7 separate regions of the Homo sapiens genome follow, and regions 1, 2, 3, 4, 5 and 6 are each linked to region 7. Evidence: fine-mapped expression QTL. A gene starts in region 7. Each other region holds a variant in brackets. All regions are shown on one strand. Distances are from middle to middle.

What was found.
Region 1: its variant is fine-mapped to the expression of ACOX3 in pancreas (GTEx, PIP 0.98). The same link has a PIP of 0.9 or more in prefrontal cortex.
Region 2: its variant is fine-mapped to the expression of ACOX3 in whole blood (TOPMed, PIP 0.98).
Region 3: its variant is fine-mapped to the expression of ACOX3 in lung (GTEx, PIP above 0.99). The same link has a PIP of 0.9 or more in visceral fat.
Region 4: its variant is fine-mapped to the expression of ACOX3 in whole blood (INTERVAL, PIP above 0.99).
Region 5: its variant is fine-mapped to the expression of ACOX3 in whole blood (TOPMed, PIP above 0.99). The same link has a PIP of 0.9 or more in lung.
Region 6: its variant is fine-mapped to the expression of ACOX3 in whole blood (INTERVAL, PIP above 0.99).

What each region holds. Positions count from the first base shown.
Region 1 is chr4:8,364,598-8,368,688 of GRCh38, forward strand. ACOX3 (acyl-CoA oxidase 3, pristanoyl) reads right to left here. Exons shown (of 18, transcript NM_003501.3): 18 at 1,685-2,483. The coding sequence ends at 2,364. Among named protein-coding and RNA genes, the nearest start is that of LINC02517, 46 kb to the left of the region's middle. The variant G/C (reference allele first, on the strand shown) is at 1,845.
Region 2 is chr4:8,473,058-8,477,148 of GRCh38, forward strand. It overlaps TRMT44 (tRNA methyltransferase 44 homolog), which reads left to right. Exons shown (of 11, transcript NM_152544.3): 11 at 2,715-3,498. The coding sequence ends at 2,944. Among named protein-coding and RNA genes, the nearest start is that of TRMT44, 34 kb to the left of the region's middle. The variant C/G (reference allele first, on the strand shown) is at 2,445.
Region 3 is chr4:8,501,328-8,505,418 of GRCh38, forward strand. It overlaps a transcript of TRMT44 not described here. Among named protein-coding and RNA genes, the nearest start is that of TRMT44, 63 kb to the left of the region's middle. RefSeq lists an enhancer at 2,855-3,742. The variant A/T (reference allele first, on the strand shown) is at 1,855.
Region 4 is chr4:8,347,319-8,351,409 of GRCh38, forward strand. No RefSeq gene overlaps it. Among named protein-coding and RNA genes, the nearest start is that of LINC02517, 29 kb to the left of the region's middle. The variant A/G (reference allele first, on the strand shown) is at 2,207.
Region 5 is chr4:8,357,249-8,361,339 of GRCh38, forward strand. It overlaps a transcript of ACOX3 not described here. Among named protein-coding and RNA genes, the nearest start is that of LINC02517, 39 kb to the left of the region's middle. The variant C/T (reference allele first, on the strand shown) is at 2,009.
Region 6 is chr4:8,334,642-8,338,641 of GRCh38, forward strand. LOC124900658 (a long non-coding RNA gene) reads left to right here and starts at 691. Exons shown (of 2, transcript XR_007058013.1): 1 at 691-804; 2 at 1,858-2,274. The variant A/C (reference allele first, on the strand shown) is at 1,683.
Region 7 is chr4:8,438,944-8,442,943 of GRCh38, forward strand. It overlaps ACOX3 (acyl-CoA oxidase 3, pristanoyl), which reads right to left and starts at 1,780. Exons shown (of 18, transcript NM_003501.3): 1 at 1,705-1,780. TRMT44 (tRNA methyltransferase 44 homolog) reads left to right here and starts at 1,834. Exons shown (of 11, transcript NM_152544.3): 1 at 1,834-2,498. The coding sequence starts at 1,880. RefSeq lists enhancers at 1,668-1,907, 1,726-2,459 and silencers at 1,928-2,137, 2,188-2,247.

The DNA of each region.
Region 1 (4,091 bases), 74 kb before region 7:
GCACGAGAACCTGTCGTGTCTGACATGGTGACATCGTGACATCACAAAGCTCTCCTGCATGAGAACCCGTCATATATGACACCGAAGTCAAATGTGTTTTTTTCTGTAAACCTTGAACATACCCTTGACCTTGAACAACTTCTGTGACCTGCTGGTAGAAAAACAGGTAGTTTCAGACCAAAGGCTGGACGAGACCACAAACCAAGGTCCCAAGTGATAAAAAAGGCAAAACATGAAAACCCCTCCGGAGATGCCCAAAGCTGTTACTTGGGAGACAAGGACAGCTGGGGCCTGCTCTGGAGGGTGGTGAGGCAGGAGTGACCGTGACTCTAACTCAGGCTGGCCACCACCTAGAATCTAGCTGCGGGCACATCAGAGGACTTGGGAGCCTGTTCCTTCTCGCTTAGAAAAGCTACAGGTCTAGGTAAAGGAGCCGTCCACACACACACGGCCTGAGGCATCCTATGAGGGGGACCCCTGGTGGAAATCTGCATGACCCCAGTTGACAGCCCACGCAGGCCCAACTGCTCTTGGGCTGGGACCCCCAGGCAGTGGGGCTGGGGACCCCGGGCCCGTGAGGCCTGTGGGTGGCAGCCTCAGTGGGGAATGAGCCCCTCCGACACTGGCAGGCACCACTGACGTGTTCTCTGGGTTTGTACTCGGAACTGCTCCATCTAATTCGCAAGGGCCTGAGCACTCTCATTCCCATTCTCTCTGAAAGCAGGAAGAGTATCATAGACAAAACACATGTAACCCACGAAGAGTTTGTTTAAACCCAAGGAAGCTTCTAAACCAGAGTAAGATGAATTCAGGTGGGGATGCTCCTGGGTTCGAGTGACAATGGATACCAGCACCTACCTATTGCGTCTCAGCCCTGTGCTGGGGCACTCAGGCACCAGGGAGGTCCCATGGCTTCTGGTCCCGCTCGGCCACCTCCTGCTGTCTGCCTGCGGCAGTGTCCAGCCTATTGGGACCAGTCTCCTCTCTGCAGATGCAGCAAACGGCACAGCTCACCCCACGCGGTTGGCTGAGCGTCCCACGAGATGATGAATCCTGAGTGCTCAGTAAGGTGCTGGCAGGCGGTAGGTGATCATCAAAGAAGTCACTAATTACCCCTCAGATGCCCCTGGAGCCCCAGACGGGTGGGATGTGGTGGGGGGGTGGTGTCCTGACCCTTTTCTAACATGAAAATGGCTTCAGAAGTGATTTCCAGTGCTGGAAATTCAGTTTTTAAAAACATTCTGGACCATGCCCTTCAGACGCTCAAAAGTTCTCTGGGCTACCTGGAAAAATAAGAACTGGTCTTATTTGGTTCGGCACCGTCCTGAGACATGCTGGGTTACATCTGTTTGATGGGCTGTGGTGATACGAGTGTGGCCACGGGGGTCAGGGGGCACCAGAGTGACCCAACTCCCTGCTACTGAAGACGAAGGCCTTCCGTGCCCTGAGCTGATCAGAGGTTAAGAAGCAGGACCCAGATGCAAAGACAGAACTGCTCCGGGAACCTAACACTGGGAAGGGCAGCCAAGCCCATGGCCCTGCAGGGAGCAGGAGTGACCGGGGGAGGCGTGCACTGATGGCCCCGGTCTGCTGCAGTCAGGCTGTGGCCAGCGCCATGGGGACAGGCCACATGTGTGCAAGGACTTGCTGGGTAGACTCTGCAGGGACAAACAGATCATACATGTTACCAATAAAGTGATTTGTATATAACTGGCGGCAGGGGGAGGGGGGCGGTTGGAGACTGAATTGCCCATTCAAATCATTAGACTTTTTAAAAAAACATTTCCTCGATGGAAATTTCCAGTTCCACAAAAGAAAGTAATCAAACAGATGTTCCTCCTTAA[G/C]TCTTAAACCACGACATTCAGATGATCTATGTGCAAATTAATAAGGTTATGACATAATTCAATTATGTGACAAAGCCGAGGGAGAGTTGACAAAGAACCAGACTGGCATCATTGACTTCTCAATGAAGTGGAGCTCGGTAAAAAATCTAGATGAATCACAGGTTGTCTGACCAGAAGATCCCTGACAATGGGCTGTTTACTTTAGAGAAAGGAGCTGAACCCTGAAAACTGAATGTGCGAAATTCTAATTATCAAAAAACCCACGGCGCATCAGGTAGACATGATCATCTGCATTTCTTTTCCACGCTGCAAATCACCGCGATCCCAGATTAGTCCAGCCGGCCGGGTGCCTCCCTCCCGTCCGCCTGGGCAGTTGAGGCCAATCAGCAGTTTAGGCGCACAGGTGCGGGCTCAGAAAGCAGCAGCAATCTCCGGCGTGTTCTGGAATCAGAAGTTGAGGTCCACGTCTGATTAGTTCCCTTCGTTTCATTAGACTTGGCTGAATGTGTGCCAGTCCCACTAGAGCTTCGATTTCAGACTTCCTATGACAGGTTTGTTCACAGAAAACTCTGGCCACCAGGATGCCCGCTCCAACACCTTGCTTTCCTGCAGGACAGCGCCCCAGAGGTTTTTGTAGAGCTGCAAACAACACGTACACAGCAAGTGAAGACAAAGAAATAAGAAGGAAAAGATTCCTAGACGGCTGAGTGTGCAAATGCAACTCCTCAAAGTTTTTGTTAAAAACACAGGAAATTCGGCTGGGCACAGTGGCTCACGCCCGTAATCCCAGCATTTTGGGAGGCCGAGGTAGGCAGATCACCTGAGGTCGGGAGTTTTAGATCAGCCTGACCAACATGGAGAAACCCCATCTCTACTAAAAAAAAATTCAAAATTAGCCAGGTGTGGTGGTGCATGCCTGTAATCCCAGCTACTCGGAAGGCTGAGGCAGGAGAATCACTTGAACCTGGGAGGTAGAGGTTTCAGTGAGCCGAGATTGCACCACTGCACTCCAGCCTGGGCAACAAGAGCAAAACTCCGTCTCAAAACAAACAAACAACAACAACAATAACAAAAAAGCACAGGAAATTCTCTGTCACTTTTTAGAGAAATTTTAAAATGGTTTAAATTTATATGAATATTTTCTTTTTTTTTCTAGTAGAAAACAATTAGGACAATTCAATTATAAAGTACTATAAAACACATTTATAATGAAAATCACCCCTCGCCCTCTTCTTTGGAAATTATTGGCTGGGTGAGGTGGCTCGTTCCTGTAATCCCTGCACTCTGGGAGGCTGAGGAAGGCAGATCACTGGAGCTCAGGAGCTTGAGACCAGCCTGGGCAACACGGCGAAACCCCATCTTTACAAAAAAAAAAAAAAAAAAAAAAAAAAAAGCAAAAAATTAACTGGGCATGGAGGAGTTCACCTGTAGTTCTAGCTACTTGGGAGGCTGAGGTGGGAGGATCACTTGAGCCCAGGAGGTTGAGGCTGCAGTGGGCCGAGATTATGCCACTGCACCCCAGCCTGGGTGACAGAGTGAGATCCTATCTCAAAAAAAAAAAAAAAGAACTGATCGTGGCAGTGGACACGCTGTTTCTTAGTAACTGCAGCCACCGCAGGATGCTGCAAGGCTGCATCGACTGCTGCTCTGAAATCTGCTCTCACACCCCAGGCCGCTACAGGCCGCACAGGTGGCACGTGGCCACCAGCAGCAGGATGCCCTCGCCGAGTGGCCCTTACTGGCTGATTTCTGGACCTGGGCCACCACACCCTGCTCCTCTGGTCCTGCCCCGGGCCAGCACTCCCCTACGGGAGGTGCAGACTTCACTGCTCTCAGCCTAAGTGGCCTCACTGGGAAGATGGGGAGAGACGCTCCTGTCTTGGAGGAAGGTTGTACAAATGAAGGGCGAAGGGCAGCTGAGCAGACACTTCACCCGTGCAGGGTGGAAAGGGGCAGCCCAGACCATCTCCAGGGCCTGGGGAGGTGGTCTATTGTGTATCCAGCTTACGCTGACCCATTTTATTGAGAAGAAACCCCTCTGCCTGCACCCGCTAAATGCACTTAGCAACCCCTCCTCCCCACTCTGCTACTCTGGGCTCCACAGACACAGACCCAGGCTGCTGCTCCACAGGGCCTAGGTTCCAGCTTATGTTTCACAGTTTGGAGCAGCGGGCTTGATTTAAGGATGGTCTCAACTCCCCTGCAGCTCTGTTTGTTCGCTTATAGTGAATTTCTCACCTGGCAGCT
Region 2 (4,091 bases), 34 kb after region 7:
CCTCCAGTCATGCGAAAACTATGCTCTGAAGCTGGGTCTTATCTCTGTATGAGGTTTAGGTTTTGTTTTAAGCTAACGTGGCTAGTCTCAGAAAATGTTTATGAGAGTGAGGAATTGGAAATGTTTCCAGATGGCTTCAGGTCAGCCAGCCCTGAGCATGACCCATGAGGGCCACAAGGGCCAGCCCTGCCTCTGTCCCTGCCCCTTCCTGAGGCCGCCAAGGGGCGGCGCGCTGCATCCATGCTGGCTGGTATGGAGCCTGGCACCGTGCTGCCGGGTACACGCGGGGCCTCATCTCATCCTGCACTCATGGCAGAGCAGGCCTTTCCTCCTTGAACATGTAGACAAGTCTCAGAGAGGTCAGTGCGCCGGCCCGATGTCTCCCAGTGAGTGGAGAGGCCACGCCACAGTCCGGGCCAGGTCTGACCCAGCACTGGCACCCCTGAGCCTATGGCATCATCCGAGGACTGTAATCCTCAACCCGTTCCTCAGAGCAACTTGGTGAAAGGGAGTGTCTGTCTGCTGTCAGAAGCAGTGGTGGAGATGGCGGCTCCTGTGCTGAGGTAGAGTCCCAGGGGATGCGCACGGTAAGGAGGGAGGAGGCGGCAGGAACTTGGGTGGAGCAGACTGTGGCTCTGTGGTTCCATTTCAAAATGAGGAGCACATTTCCAGAGGAGGAGAGTCTTTCTAGCTGTTGGTTGTCTTTCTAGCTGGCTAGAGCAAGTGCCTCTGGAAGGCCGCCCCTTCTGGCACCTGGCCAGATGGGGGCTCAGGTGTTAAGAGGGGCGGCCGGGAGCTACCTGCCATGTCCAGGGTTGTAGACACGGGGAGTGGGTCAGTGAGGCTGGGCCAGCCTGGAGCCTGCCTGCGCCGTTCGGGAGCCTCATCTCTATCATCAGCGCCCGCTCCTCAGTCCTTAGACACCCTGCAGGTCCTGCTTCCAAAACATGGTTGGGTGTGCTCTTAACTCCGGAGCCGCGTGGGAGGGCCTGCCGCCAGCTGGCCTGTCACGTTGTGGTGGGGAAGGGGGTGCCGAGGCTGGCTCTGAGGGGAATCTGTACTCAGCCTTTGGCCTCAGTGATCCCCCACCCCCCATTCTCTTGACAGGTCAGGGCATCAGGCCAGAGGCCCCTCACTGTTTGGGATCATGGGGAGTTGGGGGGAAGCTCTGGCCCCTGGGGCTCCTCCTGAGCACCCTTTAGAGGGTTCCAGGTCCCTCAGTGGCCAGGATGTGCCCTTCTGTGCTGCGCCAGGAGGTGCTGCTGTGGGGACATGGGCAGAGTGTCGCGGGACTGCCTTAACAGGAGACTTCAGGTTAAGAAACCTCAGCTCCAATGTTGGGAGGCGAGACAGAGAGGCAGCCGTGGGAGGGCAAACAGGGTCAGGCCTGGCCTTGGCGGTGCTTCCAGCCAGGCTGTGAGGGTGAGCCCCCAACTGTGGCGCCGTTCTCTGGGCTCATTTCTCTAGTTTCAGGGGAAACTGTAAAACATCAGTCTGTCAAAAGCACACAGGCTCGTTATTGCCACACACAAGGTGATTTGAAGGCAGAATTCGAGCTTTAATTCCTACACTTTCAAGTTCTCTTTGGAAGTCGGTGAGCCAGACTTCCTCACTGAGGCTCCTTTATTCCCCCGAGCCTTCTGTCGTGAGCGGTTTCCTAGCTTCCAGCGAGAACCAGGAAGGAGGTGGTTGCTTTGGCCATGTTTCACGGGGAGTTGTTGGATTCCCACAAGGAAACGGCCAAATGGGAGCGTAGGGGGGTATCTCGGCCCAATTTGGGCGGCGGGGTCAGGAGGCAGCCTAGAGGAGGCCTGCGAGGCCTGGGACCCAGGTGACGAGCGGGCCCACAGCAGCCCTCTCCTGGCCCCACCCCACTCTGATGTCCCTCCAGCTCCCCAGTTTGGAGATCAGCCCTGGCCATTGGGTCCCAGTGGCACTTTCAGAGGGGGTATCTAAACTACTGCACATAGGCAGGTCCCCCTTCGTGTTCCTGTTCCAGAGCTCATTGGCCTCTGTTACTCCACACTTGCACCTGGAGGGGCTCCGGTTGGGAGGCGCATGTAAACCCAGTGCACCGGGACGGCACCAAGGAGCAGAGGCTGCCCTGCACCAGCCCCGTCCTTAGACTGCGTGGAGGGACCTGCGCCTTGCCCCTCTTTCTGCCCGTAATGCTGACACAGTCCTCAGAGGTCGGGGCTGCAGCACAGATGTTTTCTCGTGTTTCGGCTCTCACACCGTGGTCCCTCCTTCCTCCACTCAAGTGATCCTTCTAAAATGGTGGCTCTGCAGGACCTGCCTCTCAGCCAGAGGGAAGGTCGGTGGCCTCAATGATGAGGCCACAAGGGACCCAGCTCTGTCCTCTGCCCTCCCCTCTGGCTGTCCCTCGAATGTGGCCAGTCCTGGTGCAGTCTGTCCTGGGACACTCGGGTTTGCTGCTGCTTTGC[C/G]TAAAATGCTCTTCCTGGGTCTGCGCAGGGCTGCCGCTCACTTCCCGCAGGGCTCACCTTCCCCGGCCTTGCCTGAAGACACATCCCATACCTCAGTCACTCCCACTGGAGGCAGACTCACTGTGACCAGCAGGAACTCTAGGCTGTGTTCCGGTTGTATCCCTGACCCTGGATTGGCACCTCCCGTGGCGTGGGAGCTAAAGAGAGGCTGGTGAATTAAGGAACTTTCAGGTTTACTTCTCAGTGTGTCTTCTCTGTTCCAAACCACAGTTGTGAATGGGAGAGTTCACATCCGCGACTGGCGAGAGGAGACACTGTGGAAGACAAAGCAACCGGAAGCGAAACAGAGACTGCTCTCTGAAGCCTGCAAAACCCGCCTCTGCTGGTTCTTCATGCATCACCCTGATGGCTGCGCTCTGTCCACGGACTGCTGCCCGTTTGCCCATGGGCCTGCGGAGCTGCGGCCACCCCGGACCACCCCGAGGAAGAAGATTTCATGAGCTGCATCCTTGCCAGCCGAGGCCTGGTTGGGGAGGCCAAACCAAGGAGAGCTTCCCCAGCAGTCGTCAGTGCTGTGGTCTCTGCTCTGGCTGTGTTTCAGCCCACCTCCTCCCAGCTTTCTCCACATCCTCACAGTGATGAACCGTATTTCATAAACATCACACGCCAGAGAAGCCACAGTTACTCGGAAGCCCCCAGCTGACTGCCTGGCTTGTTTCAGATGCAGCCGCTTGAAACGTGCGCAGCATCTTCATATCATAAAGATTGTGCACGGATCCTTACAATGTCTCCTGGGGGAGAGCGGCTGAGGCTGCCTTGCACAGGCCCTTCCCAGGGCGCTGTCCGACGCCTGCCCCACCATGTCCACATCTGTGAAGAGGATGGGGCTCCTCGAGAAGTAAGACCGTATCTGCCAGCGTTTCTCACCACACTGGAGAGCAGCTGCTCTGGAGCAGGGATCCACCAGATTGGTATTTTTAAAAAAGGTGTCAGGCTTGCTATGTTGAGGTTGTTTTTAGAGTTACAGAGAATAAAAACACTCATAATTTCCTGACATGGGCCACTCTAAGTGGCATGAAAAAAAAATCCTAAGTGAATTGTTGACAGGGCTTTAAAAATGTAAATATCACAGATGACAAAGGTAAGACCTACACCTTCCTCCCTCCTCCATGAGACCCTCTCCCCAGAAATACTGCAGCAGTCCTTTTTAGTCCTTCCAGAAAAAAAAATCCTGATTTGTTTCTCTTTTATTTTTATGAAGTGATAGGGTCTTGATCTCTCGCCCAGGCTGGAGTGCAGTGGCAAGATCATAGCTCACTGCAGCTTTGAACTCCTGGGCTCAAGCCATCCTTCTGCCTCAGCCTGTCAAGTGACTGGGACTGTAGATGCACGCCACCATGCCTGGCCAACTTTTAAAATTTTAGAGGCGGGGTCTCGCTATGTTGCCCAGGCTGGCCTTGAACTCTTGGGTTCATGCAGTCCTCCCACCTCAGCCTCCCAAAGTGCTGGCATGACAGCTGCGAGCCATGGCGTCTGACCCCCGATGTTTCTATTTAAAGTTATTTCTATGGTTTTATACAAAAGGTCACATGCAGTCCACACTGTTCTGCCGTTGACTTTCTGCAGTGTACCCTGGTGCCTCTCCAT
Region 3 (4,091 bases), 62 kb after region 7:
TCTGAGAGATGGTATGTAGGCTGCTGCTATTAATAGCAGCATGAGCTCTGGGACCGGATGTCCTGGGTTCAAATTCCAGCTCTGCCTCAAAAACTTGCAACCTTGGGGAAGTCACTCAACTTCCTGTGCCTCAGTTTCCTCCTGGGAAAAATGGGGATGAGGATAATCTTGGCAGAGGATTGTTGAGAAGGTTGAGTACATTTGGAGCCTAACAGCTTTAGCGGGCACTTGGCCACTGTGAGAACTCAGTGAGGGTTAGCGATTTCACACAAGGGCCTTCTCACCAGGCTCCGGCAGACGGGACATTCCTTTGCTATTTGAGATGTTTTTGGACTCTTCCTCTCCCTCTTTGCCCCTTTCCCTTTTCCTTTCCCCTTCTTCCCTTCTTTCTTCTTATGGGGAGCTAGCTGGGAGGTGCTCAGTTGGGGCCCTCAGTGACTGGAGTCTCAAGGGCTCTGCTGCCATCGGCTGTGAGCTCAGCAGCCCCTGTCCTTTCTGGGCCCCAGCCTCTCCATCCAAAAACCAGAAGGCTGCCTGGAAGGTTCCAGAAGTTGCTCTTGGTCCTGACCCCTGCCCACATCTCTCTGTTGAGAAGACTGGTGCCACTCTGGGGACAGCTGGCTTCCCGCCTCTTCCCGGGTCCCTGGGGAAGTAACTCCTCTCCCAGGAGGAGACAGACAACTGGTCCTCTGAGCAGCAGCTGAATTTTACAGAAGGGCTATTGATTGTTTTGTTCAAAGAGGGAGAATAAATTTGGTTCTGTGAGTCATAACGTGACATTCTCCAAAATGGTTCTGACCCATAAAACGGGGGCTCCTGTTGATATCAGCCCTGAAGGTTAATGGGTGTGTTTTCAGAATACTCTGCCAGGAATGACTCCAGAAACTGCCCTGAGTGCATCCATGGGAATGGTCCTCGGGACAGGCAGCCGCCATGAAATAGACACCCTGCCCTGCCTTCTTCCTGTTGGTGTTTGTTGACCACATCTGCAATCCTCTGATGAAGCAGGGGGTCAGGTGGAGGGAGAGGAAGCTTCTGAATATTTCTAATCTTCAGCTGCTTAAAAAACTACAACGAACTTAGTGGTTTCAAGGACACATATTTAGCTCATGGTGCAGTGGGTCTGAAGTGTGAGTGCAGCTTAGCAAGGTTCCCTGCTCACGGTCACATCAGGCTGCAATCACGGTACCAGCCAGGGCGTTGGTCTCAGCCGAGGCTCAGCTGGGGCAGGCTCTGCATCCACACTCACCAGGATGTTGGCAGTATTCGATTCCTTGCTGGCTGTTGGCCAGAGACTTGTTGTGCCTCAGTTTCCTCTTTGGCAAAGTGGGGTTGATTTTTCCTGGCCACAGGCCCTCTCCCAGGGCCAGCTCACACACAGCAGCACAACCAGTTATGATCTTATGCAAGGCTGTCAAGGAAGCAGTGCCATTGCCTTGGTGGATGCTATTGGTGAGACGCAGGTCCCAGGTCCCAGCTCCCAGATCCCGCTTACACTCAGGGGAGATTAATCAAAGGTGTCAGTGCCAGGAGGTGGGGAACATGGGCCACTACAGGGTCTGCCCACCACTCTCTGGATTGGCCCAAGACCACTTCTTCTTCACCCTTGAACACACAACAGACACAGGCACACACAGACTCAGCACAGGCTTGAATACCATCGGGATGAGGTAATGTCATGGGTTGAGGGGGCGTTCCCCACCCCTCACCTCCCACATGAGAGGCAGAGGCCAAGGTTTGGTTTCTGGCTGTGACCCTGGGCTGCTTTCCCACTGGGTCTCTGCTTCATTATCTGTAGAGGGAGGACTTGGACTTGGCAGGGGTTCCTGGACAATTCTCAGCCAAAGAAACCCG[A/T]CCCCTTCCCCAGGCTGCAGGAGCCGCATTTAGGGGTGTTCTCCCGCTCTGCACACACACCCTTGAGGGTCTACTCCATTCACCTTGCAAGGCAAGCTGTCCCCTACAGCCCCGGAAAGGGTGGCACTCTATCCCAGCAGACCCTAGGCCGTGGCTGCAGCAGTCGGACCGGCTCAAGCATCTGCCCCGGGGAAGCAGCCTAAAGCAAGAGAATCACCCACATGGGAATCCGGACCCAGGTGTGGAGGACACTGGGCTGACAGTGTGCACAGGGCCATGCACCCACCAGCAAGGGACACAGCACTCGGTCCCAGAGGTGGCCTCTGTTGTGGCCCCAGCCTGCAGAATGATCTCAGGCAGCCACCCGGATGGAGGGTTTGGTGGAACTCCTGGGCCACATACCTCAGAGAACACAGCAAAGAGTCAGCACCCAGTAAGGTGCAGAGAACTTTCCACCCCGATGCCCACACAGGGTTCCTGCCATCAACGGGAGTCAGGTGGTCACAGGGCTTCTCTTGGGAACAGAATTCCCGTCCAGAAGCTTCCTCTTCTCTTGCTTTGGCCTGGGCCCTGGCTCCCAGTTCTGTCCTATGTCCCCGCATCTCTGGCTGTTCTTCAGTGCCCTGGTTGCTTCCCCTTCACCCTCCTAAATGTTGGAGTTCCGGAAGGCTCTGAGCCCCTCTTGTTCTTATCCTCCTGGCTAGCTTCGTCTCCAGCAAGCCCTCACACGCACCTCGGTGCCAAGGCTTGCAAACCTCAGCCTGTCCTGGCCTCGCTCCCAAGCTATGGGACAGAGCGTCTCCCCCGAGGCTCCCGAGCCTGTGGTGCCCTCTGCAGTCCCCGCACCCGTCCACACCTGCTCTCTCCTGCTCCCCCTCCAGCCTCTGAGCCTCTGAGGTTGGTGGGCATCTTGGTGGTGGCTGCTGGGAGGGTCTCAGGGCGGGGCAGGGGCTGCATCAGGGGTCTGCACTGCATGGAATGGACATGGCATGGTGTAAGCCCCTCAGCCTGAGATTCAGCACCATTTCCATGCTGCTCATGTCCCCACCTCCTCGGCTTTCCCCATGGCCCACCTAAGTCTCCTGCGCTCCTGCAGGGCTGAGCAATGGCCCCCATTCACTAAGGCAGGGAATCCCCTCTGCCCGTGCCTGCTCCCTTCCCCGCCAGGTACCCGCGCCAGCTTTACTGCCTTCCCTCTTCCTCCCGGGCCTGCGCTGCTGCCCTCCTCCCCTGGAGCTGTGCCAGCTCCAGCTTTTCAGCCAGCAGCTCCTGCCCCGCCCCACTCATTGTGTCCAGACCTGGGCTCCATGCTGACCCCCAGCGTGTACGGAGCTCCTGCCATTCCTTGGGTGTGGACCTGTGCCGAGTCTGTAGTGTGCACAGGTCCTGCCAATCCTTGGGTGTGGACCTGCGCCAAGTCTGTATCCACCTTCAATAGCTCATCTCTTCCACCCGGGAGGAAGTTCCCTTCATCCTCCCTGTGGGGAAGAGGGCACTGAAGCTTGGCAGAGCTCTTCCTGGGGTCTCAAGGGTCTGCTCCAAACCCTTGCTCTTGCCCCTGTCACAACCCAGGCACCCTGGCTGCACCTGCAAACTGCACTCCATGGTGGCAGCCCTGCCCTGCCAGTGCCAGCCCCGTCTGCCTCACCACCCCAGTCCCTGAGCTCCCTGGGGCTGAACGCCACTTCTCTGGATTCTAAATAGGCCCCCGCAGGGTACCTGTTGCTGTATCTACCACTTCCCCCAGCCTCCTGGTCTGGGTCCTGCTGATTCTGGTCATTACTCACCTTCTGCTCTACCCACCCTCCCCTGCATGCTGCCCCCAGCCGCAGAGGAATGCCCCCTCCATGTCCCACTCCCTCCACCAACAACAGCTGATCTGTCCTTTCTCCTGGCTGCGTGACCTCTCAGGAAGAGGCGGTGCTACACTGAGGGCCCTGGCAGCCTCTCTAGGTCCCTGTCCCTCACCTTTCAAAGGAGAGATAGGACAGAGGTGGCAGAAACTGGCTGGAGCAGGCTTCTGTCCGGGTGCTGCTCCGGCTGTGACTCCTCACCCCTCAGAGCTGCATCTTCCATCTGCGAACAGGAGGCTGCAGCCCCTGAGGAGGTGGCATCTCTGCCTGTGGGAAGTCAGGTGCACTGAGGCCAGATGCAGGGAGGGTGCTCCAGGCTCAAGGGTGCAGGAGGAGCCTCCTGCCCTGGGAGGCCAGCACTCAGCCCCAGCTCTGCCACCTTGA
Region 4 (4,091 bases), 92 kb before region 7:
GCAAGCCTCTGCCTTTCTGCCCCGTGCACTTTCTGTGATGGTTAGGGTTAGGGTTAGGGTTAGGGTTCATGTTAGGGTTAGGGTAGGCTTACCTCACTGCAGAGCCAGAGAACACACCCCCGTAGGGGAGCTGAGGGAGGTCTGAGCCTCCAGCTGCTGCCTGTTTCTCCATGGGTCCTGGTGAGGGTGGACCACCCCAAGCCTACCTTGAATCTGTTCCTTGACATGCTCCTTAGATTGAGTCTTTAAAACCCTGCCTGTCCCAAGTACTCAGAATCAGAAAGAATCACCCAACTGTGTTCTGTGGCACCAGGTATCAATTCCCTGTGTACCTCCATGGACTCAGCGCCATCTCAGAAGTGAGGGCGGAGGGAAGGAACCTTCTAGAAGGAGGAGTTTGCTGCAGAACATCCAGAGCCCACAGCACTGAGTCGTCTCCATGCCCCTTGCCTGTGGTTCTCTGTAGCACATGGCAGGGGGGTGGGTGGTGCAGCACCTCCTTCTGATGCGTTGAGTGTCAGCACTGCAAGGTCCCCTACCCCATGCCCAGTGCCCAGTGCCCAGTCCCGTGGGAGCTCCTCATTTGGGGCAGAGACCAGGGCAGAGGCAGCGAGGGCTCCTCTCCTCCCTCACTCAGGGGCTACAGGCTGGTCACTTGAGCTCTCTGGAAATCAGTCTCCTCATCTGGAAAACGGGGCTCATCCTGACCTTGTGATGGGCATGAGGTGATGGTATCAGATAATGTGCGCGAACGACCCTGTAAATCATAAATTGGTTGCAGTTTCTCTCCAGCGACACCCTAGTACACTTTGGAGCCTGGTGAACTTGAGTTTGCATGCCAGCTCCTGACCTCCTATGGCCCACGTCCTCACTGGAGGATGGGCTCTGGAGGCTGGAGGGCTGGTGGAAGAGGAAGTGAGATGGCAGTTCGCTGGCTTCTGCATCAGGCCCCAACTGTACCCTGGGCCTCCCAGGCTTGCACGTGCCTCCTCACAGCTTCCCTTGAACATCCTGTATCATCCAGCAGCCCTAAACCGTGTGATTTTTTCCTCTGGGAGGTGACAGCCTGGACCAGAAGTTGAAACCTGGCCCCAGGGTATGGTGTGCCCCACTGTCAGAGGGACCTCAGATGAGCCACTAAGCCTCTCTCTGCCTCAGTTTCCTTATCTAAAATGGGTGGAATCAGCTGGGCGCCGTGGCTCATGCCTGTAATCCCAGCACTTTGGGAGGGCGAGGCGGGTGGATCATTTGAGGTCAGGAGTTCAAGACCAGCCTGGCCAACATGGTGAAACCCCATCTCTACTAAAAAAATACAAAAATTGGCTGGGTATGGTGGCGGGTGCCTATAATCCCAGCTACTCGGGAGGCTGAGGCAGGAGAAATCACTTGAGCCTGGGAGGCAGAGGTTGTGGTGAGCTGAGCTCGTGCCACTGTACTCCAGCCTGGGTGACAGAGCGAGACCCTGTCTGTAAAATAAAATAAATAAAATAAAATAAAATAAAATAAAATAAAATAAAATAAAATAGGTGGAATCATCTGGTCCCTGGCTGGGCTCACAAAAATCCCACAGGGAATGAATGATTATCAGTCTACTGGGGCTGCCATAGTGGGGTTCCACAGACTGGGGGCTGGAACAACAGACATTTATTTTCTCACAGCTCAGGGGGCTGAGAGTCTGAGACCAAGGTGTCGACAGGATTGGTTTCTCCTGAGGCCTCTCTCCTCGGCCTGCAGATGCCACCTTCCCTCCGTGTCCTCACCTGGTCATCCCTCTGTGACTGTCTGTGTCCTCATCTCTTATAAGGATACCAGTCAGACTGGATTAGAGCCCACTCTGATGACCTCACTTTACCTTAATCACTTTTTTTTTTTTGACACAGAGTTTTGCTTTTGTCACCCAGGCTGGAGTGCAATGGCGCGATCTCAGCTCACAGCAACCTCTGCCTCCTGGGTTCAAGTGATTTGTCTGCCTCAGCCTCCCGAGTAGCTGGGATTACAAGCATGTGCCACCGTGCCAGGCTAATTTTGTATTTTTAGTAGAGATGGGGTTTATCCATGTTGGTCAGGCTGGTCACAAACTCCCTACCTCAGGTGATCCACCCACCTTGGCCTCCCAAAGTGCTGGGATGACAGGCGTGAGCCACCGCGCCCGGCCTAATCACCTCTTAAAAAGCCCTGTCTTGGCCAGGCGTGGTGGCTCACGCCT[A/G]TAATCCCAGCACTTTGGGAGGTAGAGGTGGGCGGATCACGAGGTCAGGAGATAGAGACCATCCTGGCTAACATGGTGAAACCCTGTCCCTACTAAAAATACAAAAAAAATAGCGAGGCGTGGTGGCACACACCTATAGTTCCAGCTACTCGGGAGGCTGAGGTAGGAGAATCCCTTGAACCTAGGAGGCAGAGGTTGCAGTGAGCCAAGATCGCACCACTGCACTCCTGGAGGTTAGGGCTTCAACATACAAATTGTAGGGGGATGCAACTGAACCTGTAACACCTTGTGTGGTCATCACTCCAGGGAAGGATGTAAAGAGCTAGGACTCCCACAGCATTGTGTTTGCAAAGGAAGACCCGGGACCTTCAAGGTCTTTGTTGCTGACCTCCTCTCCCTCAGGAAAGGCAGAGGGTCATCTCCTCCCTGGAGTGGCTTCTCCCATGCTGACCTCACTTCTGGGAGGGGCCAGGAGGAACCTGCCTGCGTTTCTGAAGCCCAGCTCTAGCACATTTCACCCAGAGGCCAGGATCCCATGCAGAATGCCAGAGGCTGAGGGCAGCGGGCCGACCTCCCTTGGCAGTTTCAGAGTCTTTCTTCAGTGCTCTGTTATTTTATACAGGATTCCTATATGCGAAAAGAAATGCATACCTTACAAAATTCCTCAGTTACTGTAATTGGCAAGTAAGGATCTCTGGAAAGAGCATTTGCTCATTTAATAGGACTGGAAGGGAGCCGCAGCTTTTTAAATTTTTTTTCCTGGTGATGGTTTTTAAAGAATTTAAAATGCAATGATATTGCAAGGAAGAGTGGACTTTTCCCTGGTTGGCAGACTCCATCTAGCCATGGCATACTGCAGCAAGATTTCTGCGGCTGCCCACACGTCCTGCCTGGTGTAGAGGTGGTTCCGTCCAAGCTCCTCGGCTCACCACTGACCTCAGCTGAGCCCCTCACGCGCGGGTCCTACGAGAGGCACAGCAAGGAGACACCCGTCCCTGGTCAGGGGAACAGAGGGGAGCCGGCCCCTCATGCACAGCCCATAGTTGGGGGACAGCAGAGCCCATGTCTCCTGTGGGGAGGGCAGAGACCCACACTGGTTGGAGTGGCGAGGCCATGCCTGGAAGTCCGGCACTGGCGCACTGGCCAGCATGGCCCCCTTCCTGCTTCACCATCTAGACCTGCCCAATTCATTCCTTTAATTCATTAACTCACTTCTTCATTCACTCACTTCACTTGTTCATCATTCCCCCATTCCACTCCAGGGCTTGCTGAGTGCTTTCCCAGTGTTTGTGTGCGGCCCTGTGCTGGGAGCTGGAGACAGGGACCCTCCAGACCTGGGTCCTGGGCTCCACGAGCTTCCAGGCCGCTGAGAGGAGTGGCCAGGCCCAGTCAGTGCTGTCCTGAGGGCTGGGGCTGCTGCAGCCAATGGTGACAGAGGCCCACCAAGTGATTCCTTCTGGAGAACAGGCCATGGCTGGGTCGGAAGGTGACAGGCTCCTGTGACCCTGACGCCAGGGGAAACTCGAGTCTTGCCGCCTATACTATGTTCACATCCACACAGAGGCTGCTGGTCAGGGACGTGGGGAAGGGTGGGGAGGGCACAGAGGGGGAGCGCCTCCCAGCCGTCCTGGGTTGGGAAGGGCTAGATGGCCAGGTGTGTAGGGGTGGTGCTCACACAGATACAAAGGCCAGGCTCCGCAGGGGCCAGGCCTTCTGTGCAGGACTGGGATGCGCAGACAAGGGTCCGCCCAGAGCTCACACTGTGGCTACCCTAGATCCTGAGAAAGCCCCACACTGAGGAGGGAGAACCGGAAGCCGAGAGCAGAGCCGGCCTGGGCACACACGGGCAAGGACACAGAGAACACAGGGCGGGACTGTTGTCCTC
Region 5 (4,091 bases), 82 kb before region 7:
GGACACCAGGGCCAGGAGACGGGGGCCCTCGAGGGGAATGCAGGGAGGACTCTGGGGCAGGGGCAAATCACTGTCAATGTTCAGCTTCAGTGCTGGGTGCAGGAACACTGGCATGAACCAAGGAGTACAATGAATCAAATTCTGGGCCCCTGTGGCCCAAAAGTAAATCAATTAAATTGGAGGGGCAACTATTTCTCCATGTGGAGTTATAAGTGATATCTATTTTCATCTTTAAAGTTTTCTACATTACCAAAATAGTACCTAATAATCACGTTAGTTTTACAATCAGAAAACGGTGGCAGCAAGCAATGACATTAAACTGAACATTTTTATTCCAATTATTCAAGTTTTTGCTGCACAGTATTTTCAAATGTTTTATTTTCAAAATGACTATTACAAAAAATGTAGTTTCCAGAATGTCATGGCTACACCTCAACCTACTCCACTCTTGCAGTGGGGGCAACAGCTTTAGGAGCAGGGACCGTGTGTGGGGGCTGCACCCTTGCAGTGCGTGGCCTGGACACGGCCCAAGCCCTCCGCCGCCCACAGACAACACTTTCACATTGATAAATATGCATGCCCATCAAATCCTGCTGTAAACCAAAACTAAAATTCTAAGTCCCCCAGCCAACTGAGTGCATCCCCTTGCAGCCACCGGGACCCAAAGAAACCTGAAAAACCAGTTCAGGCCATGAATGGGAAGGAGGGCTCGGGATGCCCCATTATACCTGCCCCGCTCTGGAATTTAGACACAACTGACCAACATTAAAATAAAAACAGAGATCCTAGACTGACAAAACAGACTCTCTGTAGCAATAAGATACCCAATTCAACGGGACTCCGGTATAGCATCACATGACACATAGTAGCCCCGAAGGAATCAAAGTATTTTACCTCAAAATATATTTCCTTGACATATGTTGAAATGGCCCTTGCAAAGCTGTCTCTCATGGGGGAAATGTGCATTCTGCAGAGAATCTGCTTCCCTTATTAGGCTTTTTCTGGAGACTCTGACACCTTTTAAGGGCCTATAAGAGACATGCACATCTATTCTCTCTGAAGCCTGCCATCCGGAGGCTTCATCAACATAACAAAAACCTTGGCTTCCACAACCACCCCCGCCCCCACCTTAACTCAAGCTGAGTTCAACTTTTTAGACAAAGCTTAACTCTTTCAACCCATTGCCAATCAGGAAATTTTTGAATCTACCTGTCAGAGACGTGTGAACCAGAGCAACTCCATCTTGAATATGAGCTGGGTAAAATGAGGCTGAGACCTACTGGGCTGCATTCCCCGATGGTTAGGTAGTCTAAGTCACAGGATGAGATAGGAGGTCAGCACAAGATACAGGTCTTAAAGACCTTGCTGATAAAACAGGCTGCAATAAGGAAGCTGGCTAAATCCCACCAAAACCAAGATGGCCACAAGAGTGACCTCTGGTCATCCTCACTGCTACACTCCCACCAGCACCATGACAGTTTGCAGGTGCCATGGCAACGTCAGGATGCTACCCTATATGGTCTAAAAAGGGGAGACATGAATAATCCACACCCTGATTAGCATATCATCAAGAAATAACCATAAAAATGGGCAACCAGCAGCCCTCAGGGCTGCTTTGTCTATGGGTAGCCCTTTTTTTATTCCTTTACTTTCTTAATAAATTTGCTTTCACTTCATGAACTTGCACTGAATTCTTTCTTGCGTGAGATCCAAGAACCCTCTCTCGGGGTCTGGATTGGGACCCCTTTCCTGTAACATCTTTCTGGTGACCATGGAAAGAACCATAGTGTGGAAACCCTTGACTCAAAGGTTTACTTTGGTTAAGTGATGGGGTCCTGTAACATCTTTCTGGCGACCACAGAAGTGACTATAGTGTGGAAACCCCAGACCCAAAGAGTAACTTTGGGTAAGTGGTAGGGTCTGGTAACGTCTTTCTGGTGAATCATGGAAGGGACGATACTGAGGAGACCCCTCAACCCAAAAGAAGTAGACTGCACCACTGGTTGGC[C/T]GACTTTGAATAAGTGGTGGGGTACCTGGGTAAAGGATGGGATTGGGTTAGAGGCCCAACGTAGGGGAGTTAGAGTCTGTCCTAAGACACAGTGGGTTAGAGGCCCCTCTTAAGGAAAGGTAAGGACGCTTGCTCAACCTTGGGTTAGAGGCCCAACTCAGGAGGGTTAGAGTCCCTTCTCAGATTTAGGGGGTTAGAGGCCCCTCTCAGTAAGGTCCCTCTCAGTAAAGTCGCTTCTGGCTAAGAGCAGGTTTGGCACTATGGGATGTTAACTGCTATTCTCTTGGGATTAATCTGCCTTGCACTCTTTGCTGATGGCTGTGAGTGACAGAATTAGCCACGTACAGGATTGTAGGACTTGGGGAGTTTTTTCCTCCTTAAACGGGGAAACTTGGGAGCTGACGGGACTGCTGGAAAAGATCCCTTCATGACTGACAAGCAGCCACCTAAACTTTTCAGTGTTGCTGCAATGGATGGGTCTTTCTCTGACCTCCCTGAGCGCCTCGCCTTCCCCATCCTGCCTCAGGCAATGCTTTTCTCTCTCTGTGCAAACTGGTTGAATAAATTGTAAAAAATAATTGTTTATCTCCTGTAAAGTTTTGATTAATGGAATAAAGGATTTGTGAGGCTAGTCTTAAGCTGTAGCCAACCAGGTCTGGTGTGCTTTCTGTGTCTTTCTGTATTGCTCTGTCATAAAGAGGAGTACCTTAGGATAGAGCACGGACTTAGGACACCTTTAAGCCTGCTTTTCAAGACAGCTCAGCAAACTGGTCAATTACAAACTTTGCTGCAGGTCCCTCAAAAAACTGGATGAGGTTTCCTTCTTGTCTTCTATGTTCTTGGGAGCTTGACCTTGTAACCATGTGGCCATGCTTTCTCTTTTCACAATGGTGGCCCAGGTTCAGGGTTCAATTCCTGGCTTGGAAAATAAGTTCTTTATCTTCTATGTATTTATATGTATTATGTGTGTGATGTTTATGAATGAAAGAGCTTTAACTAATTGGTTTAAAAATAAGTGCTTAAATATTTTGTCAGAAAAGTAAAAAGTGTAATGCCTTTTAGTTCATGTGACTGAAGTAATCTTTGGGAAATAAGGAGTTTTAAAGATTATTGGCAAAATAAAAATATCTTCAAACATGTAAACATTTGGTCTAAATTATGCAGGTGAGATATTAAGTTTGCTAAATGCTTTAAGGTCATAAACTGCTTCTTTGACTTTTTTTTTTTTTTTTTGAGACAGAGTTTTACTCTGTTGCCCAGGCTGGAGGGCAGTGGTGCGATCTCGGCTCATTGCAAGCTCCGCCTCCTGGGTTCATGCCATTCTCCTGCCTCAGCCTCCCGAGTAGGTGGGACTACAGGCACCCGCCACCACGCCTGGCTAATTTTTTTGTATTTTTAGTAGATACAGGGTTTCACTGTGTTAGCCAGGATGGTCTCAATCTCCTGACCTTGTGATCCACCTGCCTTGGCCTCCCAAAGTGCTGGGATTACAAGGGTGAGCCACTGCGCCCAACCTGACTTTTAAAAATTATTCAGTTTCCTACTCTGGAGCATTAGATTCTAGATAAGGCCAGGGACATGTGGAGTTAGCCACGCCCCTAGCTATGCTGGAGTCAGCCCCCTTATCTGCACTTCTGCCTGGTGTGTCCTAGGCTAAATTCCACACCTGGTACACAATTAGAATCCCCAACTTACCAAGGTTTTCACCAAGAGTAAAAGTCACTAACAATTAACATCGTCACATGTAATTAAGACTGCTAAAAAAAACAGTTTTACATGCAAGATGTGTAAGAAAAGTGAAATGTGTCTTTTGGTAAAAGATTATAAGAACACATGGAAATGTGGATTTTTCTTACCTAGATTAAAGAGTTAAAGAATTGTTTTAGGCCGGGCGCGGTGGCTCACGCCCGTAATCCCAGCAGTTTGGGAGGCCGAGGTGGGCGGATCATGAAGTCAGGAGATCAAGACCATCCTGGCTAACACGGTGAAACCCAGTCTCTACTAAAAATGCAAAAAAAAATTAGCCAGGCGTGGTTGTGGGCGCCTGTAGTCCCAGCTACTCAGGAGGCTGAGGCAGGACAAA
Region 6 (4,000 bases), 100 kb before region 7:
TACCCCCATTTTATAGATGAGAAAGGGAAGCTCAGAGCACAAAGCAACATGCCTGACTCCCAGCGGGACATCTGTTCATTGACTCTACAGACACTGCGTGCTAGGTCCTGGGTGCTGGTGAGGCTGGGACCCAGCCTGGGTCTCCTGACCCCATAAGAAAGAGGTTTCCTGGGGTAACAGCTGCAGCCTCTGAAAAGGAAAAATCCTTCTCCAAGTTCCTGGAAATATCCAGGGCTTTGCAATGCAGGGCGTACTCCTCCCAGGGACCCTCCTGGCTTCTCTGGAGCCTTGGGTGAGTGGTCAGTGCTCACCTGCCCCTGGGGTTGTGGCACTATACGATTGGGTCTTTCCCAGTCAGGGTTCCTTCTGGAACCCACCACCCTCCCACTCCTCCCCTACAGTGATCGTCCTGGTGCTGTGCTCAGTGTCCACTGAACACACCACACGTACAGCCAACACTAGCTTCGTGAGTCCTACTCCACGCCACGGGCAATGCGAGCCTTGGGGATGTGGACACAGACACGCTGGGTTGAGACACTCAGCTGTTGTCCCAAGTGGTGCTGTGCTGGTAAATGTTTAACAACTGGCTCTTGGTTGGGGCAGTGTGACGTGCAGCATTCCCCAGTTTCCACAGTGTGAATACTCCCCCTACGTTGCCAACACAAGGTCGCTGGTGCAGAGCTGGGAGGAGATGCACACAGTTGGCTCTGCTAGCTGAGCAGGGTGAAGCCGGCACCAGGACACCATTGACTAAGGGCCATGGAGACCCAAGAGGCAGCTGTTGTAGGAGAGGGCCAGGGCCAGGTATGTTTTAGGTGTCTCAGGAAAACCTCCTGCTCCAAGCGGGTGGATGGGGAGAGAGCAGTGCTGCGGTGCAGGAGAAGATAGTTCTGGAAGCACCACCTGCCATGGGCCTACTTCACAACAGGCACTGTGTTCAGTGTGCCAGACACCACCTCAGCCAGTTCTCACAGCTGACAGGTGAGATAGTTGTGACAATAATAAATTGATTGTACTTTTAGTTCCCTCACATTGTAACGCCCCAGTGGCTCCACATTAGATGAATTTGAGGGAAAAAACAAAGCCACTGTTTCAGCCTTGAATTATTCTGAGTTTTTTTTAGTCTAGTCTCCATGACCATATGTAAAACCAAGACTTAACTTTTTTTCTATCCAAAGAACACATGAATGAGGGCCAAATAAGACTTTTCTAAAAATCAATCATTTATTTGTTCATTTAAATTTTGTATAGGTAACAGAAGAGGGAAGGGTCACATATAAAGAATTAGGAATCAGAACAGCTTCAGACTTGATGATAGCTATACTGACAGCTAGAAGATGATGAGGCAATTCCTGCAAAATTGGCCTCTGCCTGCCTTTTACTGAAGGAAAGTGATCTCCAAACTAGAATTCTATACCCAGCCGAACTGTCGATCAAGGCTGCAGATCTGATAAGGTCATTTTCAGACATTTAGGATTGCAATAATTTTTACTTCCCCAGAACCATCATTAGAAAGTCAACAGAGCATGAACTGCATAAAAACAAGGGAGATATGGAATAGCTGATGTGTCCCAAGGTCTAGAGAGGAGATTTAGACAACAGGCAGAGAGTTTGGGGTTACATTAGCATTAGGCATGCACACGCACACACACACACACACACACACAAAAACAAAAAAAAAA[A/C]CAAAAAACAATATCTTTATGGGGAAAAGTTAAGAAGGGAAAAGTAATCATAGTATATTACACAGCTCTGCTCTGAGTTACATTTATATAATCATGCTTATCTATGTGGTGAGTTCTTATAATTTTATGTTGCCTCAACATTGATTTTGAATATAAATTGGACTTTCTCATACAGAAGCAGGGCTCAATCACCATCGACACGGTTTCCAGTTCTCCACTTCCTCCCAGTTCCTTGATGTGTCAATCCAGATATCTGGCATATGCAACTTCCTCCTGGTGAACACCTCCATATGGAACATCCAGATACAACCTTCTTGACTCATCCCACTGACTCACCCCACATGGACCGTGCAGATATGCCACAGTAGCCACCTCTCAGTCACAGCATGACTTCTGGAACTTGTGCCTGCTTGCTTCAAACCCACCGATTAAAACTTCCTGCAGGAAATCTGTATAGAGAATGCCCTAGACTCCAATAAAGGCAAGGGTCCTTCTGTCTCTCTCCCTCACATGCTCCCTGACTTCTGTGTGTGTGGCCTCTGGGCATGCCGTGTACCCTCAGGACCTGTAAGTAATAAAATCTTTATTTCCATCTTGTGTTTCTCCTAATCATTGAAAGGCTGCTTTCCATCTCAGAGATCTTAAACTAAAACAATCTGACACGAATCACACTCTCTTTGCGCTTGGGGGTAGGCTGATGGGAAGGAGGGTGTGAGGTTGGGGGCAGGAAATGAGGGAAAGCTAAAACCTCCTCTTCCATGAAGGGAAGTCAATAGGTCTTGACTAAACTGGAAAATTGAAAAGCAGCAATATAAGAATGTTATTTAGGAAAATACAGGCATACATTGTTTTATCGCACTTCACAGGTACTACATTTCTTTTTACAAATTGAAGGTCTGTGGCAACCTTGCATTGAGCAAGTCTATCGGCACCATTTTTCCAACAGCATGTGCTCACTTGGTGTCTGTGTCAGCATTTTTTAGCAATAAAATATTTTGAAATTAAGGTATATACATTTTAAGACAGAATGCTAATATTATATGCTTAGTAGACTACAGTAGAGTGTCAACATAACTTTTATATGCACTGGGAAACCAAAAAAGTTGTGTGACTTGCTTTATTGTGATATTCACTTTATTGCAATGGTCTGGAACAAAACTTGCAATATTCTGAGGTATTCTTACACCAACAAAATTGGCTTTTTTTTTTAAAAAAAAATAAAGGAAGTGGTTGCCTATGGGGAAGAATAATTTGAGTGGGTGGGGTAGAGGGGCAGGGCACTGCTGGTTTTTATAGAAAGCCCTGGGGATTATTTAACTTCTTAGATTACATGCACATGCAACCTTTTTTTTTTTTTTTTTTTTTTTTGAGACGGAGTTTCGCTCTGTCGCCCAGGCTGGAGTGCAGTGGCGCGATCTCGACTCACTGCAAGCTCCGCCTCCCAGGTTCACGCCATTCTCCTGCCTCAGCCTCCCGTGTAGCTGGGACTACAGGCGCGCGCCACCATGCCCGGCTAATTTTTGTATTTTTAGTAGAGACGGGGTTTCACCGTGTTAGCCAGGATGGTCTCGATCTCCTGACCTCGTGATCCGCCCGTCTCGGCCTCCCAAAGTGCTGGGATTACAGGCGTGAGCCACCGTGCCCGGCCGCAACTTTTTTCTAAGATCTTTAAAATTTTTTAATTGATATGTAATAATTATACCTATTTATTTTGTACATGTGATAGTTCAGTACATGTATACAATGTGTAATGATCAAATCAGGGCAACTGGGATAGCCATCACCTAAAACATATGTCATTTCTTTGCGTTGAAATCATTCAAAATCTTCTCTTCTAGCTGTTTTTAAATATTTAATACATTATTGTTAACTGTAGTCACCCTAGTAATTTTCCATTCATTCACTAACTTCTTCCTAAACCACTCTTCCTTACCCTTACCAGCCTGTGAGAATTACTATTCTACTTTCTATGAGGTCAACTTTTTTAGCTCCCACATATGAGTGAGATCATGCAATATTTGTCTTTCTGTGCCTGGCTTATTTCACTTCACATAATGACCTACAAAATCCACGTATCTAGACATGACAGGATTTCATTATTTTACATGAACAAATTGTATTCCATTATATATACCACATTTCCTCATCCATCCATCTGTTGATGGACACTTGGCTTGATGTTGATTCCGTCTCTTGGCTATCGGGAATACTGCCACAGTAAACATGGGAGTGCTGATATCTCTTCAACATACTAATTTCATGTCCTTTGGACATAATCCCAGTAGTGGGATTGCTAGATCATATGGTACTTCTATTTT
Region 7 (4,000 bases):
ACACGGCTGAAGCTTGAAGAAACAACAAGCCCGGCTCTAGTCACGCACTGGCAGCTGAATAGTCTACGCATGGCCGAAGCTTGAGGACTTGTCAAGCAAGTAAACGTAGTTAAAAATCTTAAGACTAATAGTTTTCCTGTAATACTGTTTTCCTATTGTTCTGTCACTGTATTCAATCTTTTTCCCAGGTAAGGACCTCTTTTGTCCTTGCTGGATACAAATATGCTGTATATTGTTTTGTTATTGTTACCCCCCATAACCATGCTAGAAGAAACACCTATATAAGGTGTCCCCATTGTACACATACTACTTAGTCAGGAAACCCAGACCCGTCCAGCCCAGCAACAATTCCGAGTCTTTAAGTCATTCTTTAAACACATAAACCAGAAGTTACAAGAGCCTCCTCCTTTAGCAAAACAAACAAACAACCTATTTGCTCAGCTGGCTGAAAACATTGCCAGCAGCCTAGACGTTTCTTCATGTTATGTTTATAAAAAGGCTAACATGAGAGACCAATGGCCTTGAGAAGCAAAAGATTTAATGCCTCAAGATTACTTTAACTCTTTCCCCAAGCAGATGCCAAGTTCAAGCATTTGGCTCTTAAAAACTCCTATTATTAAGAAATACTGTGTTGCTTGCTAGGAAAAAAGCTTTTAAGACCCAGTAAAAAAACTAACCTGCTTAGGACATGACAAAGTTGGCACATGTGCCTGTACTGGTTTAACACAGGTTTGATCCTAGGTCTTTATTTAAAAGATAGTTTCCAGCTATAAGAGAATTTAAAACCCTCACTGCAAGTGTATTACATAAAACACTATCACTCTGTCTCCCAAAGAGACTCAAAGTAAAAATAAAAGCGAGAACTCCCACTAATTTGTGAAAATTCTCAAAGGAAGGGATAAGGAGACCACTACTACTCCTGCTGCCCTCCTCCCTGCCACCTTGCCTAGTTCATAAGACAGGAGGAAAAGAGAGAAAGCAAAAAGTTAGAAAGAAACAAAAGTCAGATAAATAGCCAGACAACCTTGGCACCACCACGTGGCCCTAGGAGTTAAAAAAAATAATAATAATAACATCAACCCCCGACCTAAACTACTTGTGTTATCTGTAAATTCCAGACATTGTATGAAAAAAGCATTGCAAAACTTTCTGTTCTGTTAGCTGATTCATGTAGCCCCCAGTCACGTTTCCCATGCTTGCTCAATTTATCACGACCCTTTCACGTGGACCCTTAAAGTCGTAAGCCTTTAAACAGGCCAAGAATTTCTTTTTTGGGGAGCTCAGCTCTTAAGACGCAAGTCTGCCGATGCTCCCGGCCGAATAAACCTCTTTCTTCTTTAATCCGGTGTCTGAGGAGTTTTGTCTGTGGCTTGTCCTGCTACAGTAGGTGACAGATGACTTTCATCCCTCATGGGACAACGTTACATCATTCTTATGAAACAGCCATGGCTGCACTCAGACTTAGGAAGGCACTGGCTGTAATGCCAGCACTAAAAGCAAACCAGAACCCAAGTGGAGAAAAGTTAGCTTTCATAAGAGGACTCATCTTTTACGTTCACAAACTTAGGCTCCCTGACTTTTATCGGTAATCAGTACTGAGGACAATGCGTTCCACACCCGCTGGCTGGCTGATGTTTGATTCTGTAACTATACCACGCCCAGAATTCTCTCAAAAGGGAATAAAACACAGGTCAAATTCCTCACCCACACACTCCACAGTTCAACCCCTGCCAGGGAAACCAAAAGCAGGAAAGGATCTCCAGCGGCGCCATTCTCATTTCCGGTCCCAGCACCCCGCCTCCATGACGTCAACGCGCCGCGCCACCGGGCTGCGTCATCTCGGCGCGCCGCTGCCAGGGCTGTACACCTGCTGGCTGCCATGGCTGAGGTGGGCCGTACCGGGATCAGCTACCCAGGCGCGCTTCTCCCACAGGGCTTCTGGGCTGCGGTCGAAGTGTGGCTGGAGAGGCCGCAGGTGGCAAACAAACGGCTTTGCGGCGCCCGCCTGGAGGCCCGCTGGAGCGCCGCCCTGCCCTGCGCGGAGGCCCGCGGCCCCGGGACTAGCGCAGGCTCGGAGCAGAAGGAGCGGGGTCCGGGACCCGGCCAGGGTTCCCCCGGAGGGGGCCCGGGTCCCAGGTCGCTATCAGGACCCGAGCAGGGCACGGCATGTTGCGAACTTGAGGAGGCCCAGGGCCAGTGCCAGCAAGAGGAGGCACAGAGGGAAGCCGCCTCAGTGCCCCTGAGGGACTCCGGGCACCCCGGCCATGCTGAAGGAAGGGAGGGCGACTTCCCCGCCGCAGATCTGGATTCGCTTTGGGAGGATTTCTCCCAAAGTCTCGCCCGTGGCAATTCGGAGTTGCTGGCCTTCCTCACCAGCTCCGGGGCGGGATCGCAGCCAGAGGCGCAGCGTGAGCTCGACGTGGTTCTCAGAACCGTCATCCCGAAAACTAGCCCACATTGCCCCCTTACAACTCCCAGGAGGGAAATAGTCGTGCAAGGTAAGAGTGTTTTGATAGTGGACGGATATGATTAGATAAAAAAGCATTCATAGAACCTCGGGTCAATGAAAAAGTCCTAAGGGTACTAGTTCCTCTGCGATGTCCTAGGGAGGTTGTTAGGTGTTTCATAGTTTTTTGAGTGGGCGCATAGAAATGTGTGTCCTTAGTACAGAAGATGGGATAATTGATTGGGGTGGTGTCTGGAAGGCTTCAAAGAGACAGTGAAGGACTAGCTGGATATTGCGTAATACCTAGGAGTTTAGCAGGTAAAGCTGTAGGTGTAAAAGTGTTGGGGACCAGCCTCAACACCACCCGTAGGGTACTCAAAGTCCGGTGGCGACGAAGGAATGAGACGAGACAGGTTAAGAGTGCATAAAGATTGGGGGCCAGGGGGCCAATTGCAAAATGGAGGCTGCCAAAGCCTGGGAGCTCTGGTCTCCACACTATTGAGTACAATCACTTAGATCTAAGAAGCGGACGTTCGGGGCGAAAGGGTGAAAGGGAGACAGTGCATCATACATGTCATCTATAGCAGTGGCGGTTTAAATGAATCTCCTTTGTGCTCAAACAGCGTTATCTTTAACTTGTCGGAGAATAACCAGTGGGAGCGTGCTTAACTAGGAGCCTGCATGTCTGACCACATTGTAGTGATTCAAAGGAGTGTCTTTCTCCTTGAACACAGTGTTTATAGGTAAGACAGTAGGTCTCGCCCAGAGCATGGGAACATCATGACAATAAGAAGGCTTTCCTCCTCAGAGGCCTCTTGTGGCTTTCCACAACTTATTGTCTCATATTTTTATGGCCAGTTTATACAGGCATGCCATAAGCCTTTTCCCCAACATAAAGAGAGCTATTTATGCTGAGACAAATAACTGTGAAAGAGCATAGAGACTGGATGGATGGGAACCTACTAGTCCTCAGCGTTCGTTAAATCTCTGGCATTTATTTTTACTGCCCGTGACCTTGACACTTCAGCCTCAGCCACTCTTACCTGAAACTTTATTCAGCAGCATGTGTTTCGTATTGCCACTGTAACAAATTACTGCAAATTCATTGGTCAGTACAAAAAATTGATTGTCTCAGTTCTGTAGGTTAGGAATCCCCATTGGCTCTGCTGGTTTCTCCGCTGTGGGTCTCTCTCACGAGGCCAAAATCAAACAGCCTGCCGGCTGGGCTCTTATTTGGAGGTTCTGGGAAGGAATCTGTTCTCAGGCTCATTCAGTTCGTTGGTAGAATCCAATTTTTTATGTAGGACTGGGGTCCTTGTTCCCTTGCTGGCTGTCAGTTGCTGGAGGCTTCTTTCTGGTTCTTTCATGCAGCTTCCTACATCTCAGAGCCAGCAATGGGGTTGAATTCTTCTCATACTTGGAATCTCTCTGCCTTCCTCTCCTGCTGCTTCTCTCCTCCGCCTCCAGCCAGAGAAAATTCTCTGCTCTTCGTGGCCCATGGAGTTAGGCCGGGCTCACCTGGATAATCCAGAGTACTCTTCCTCTTGAGGTCTG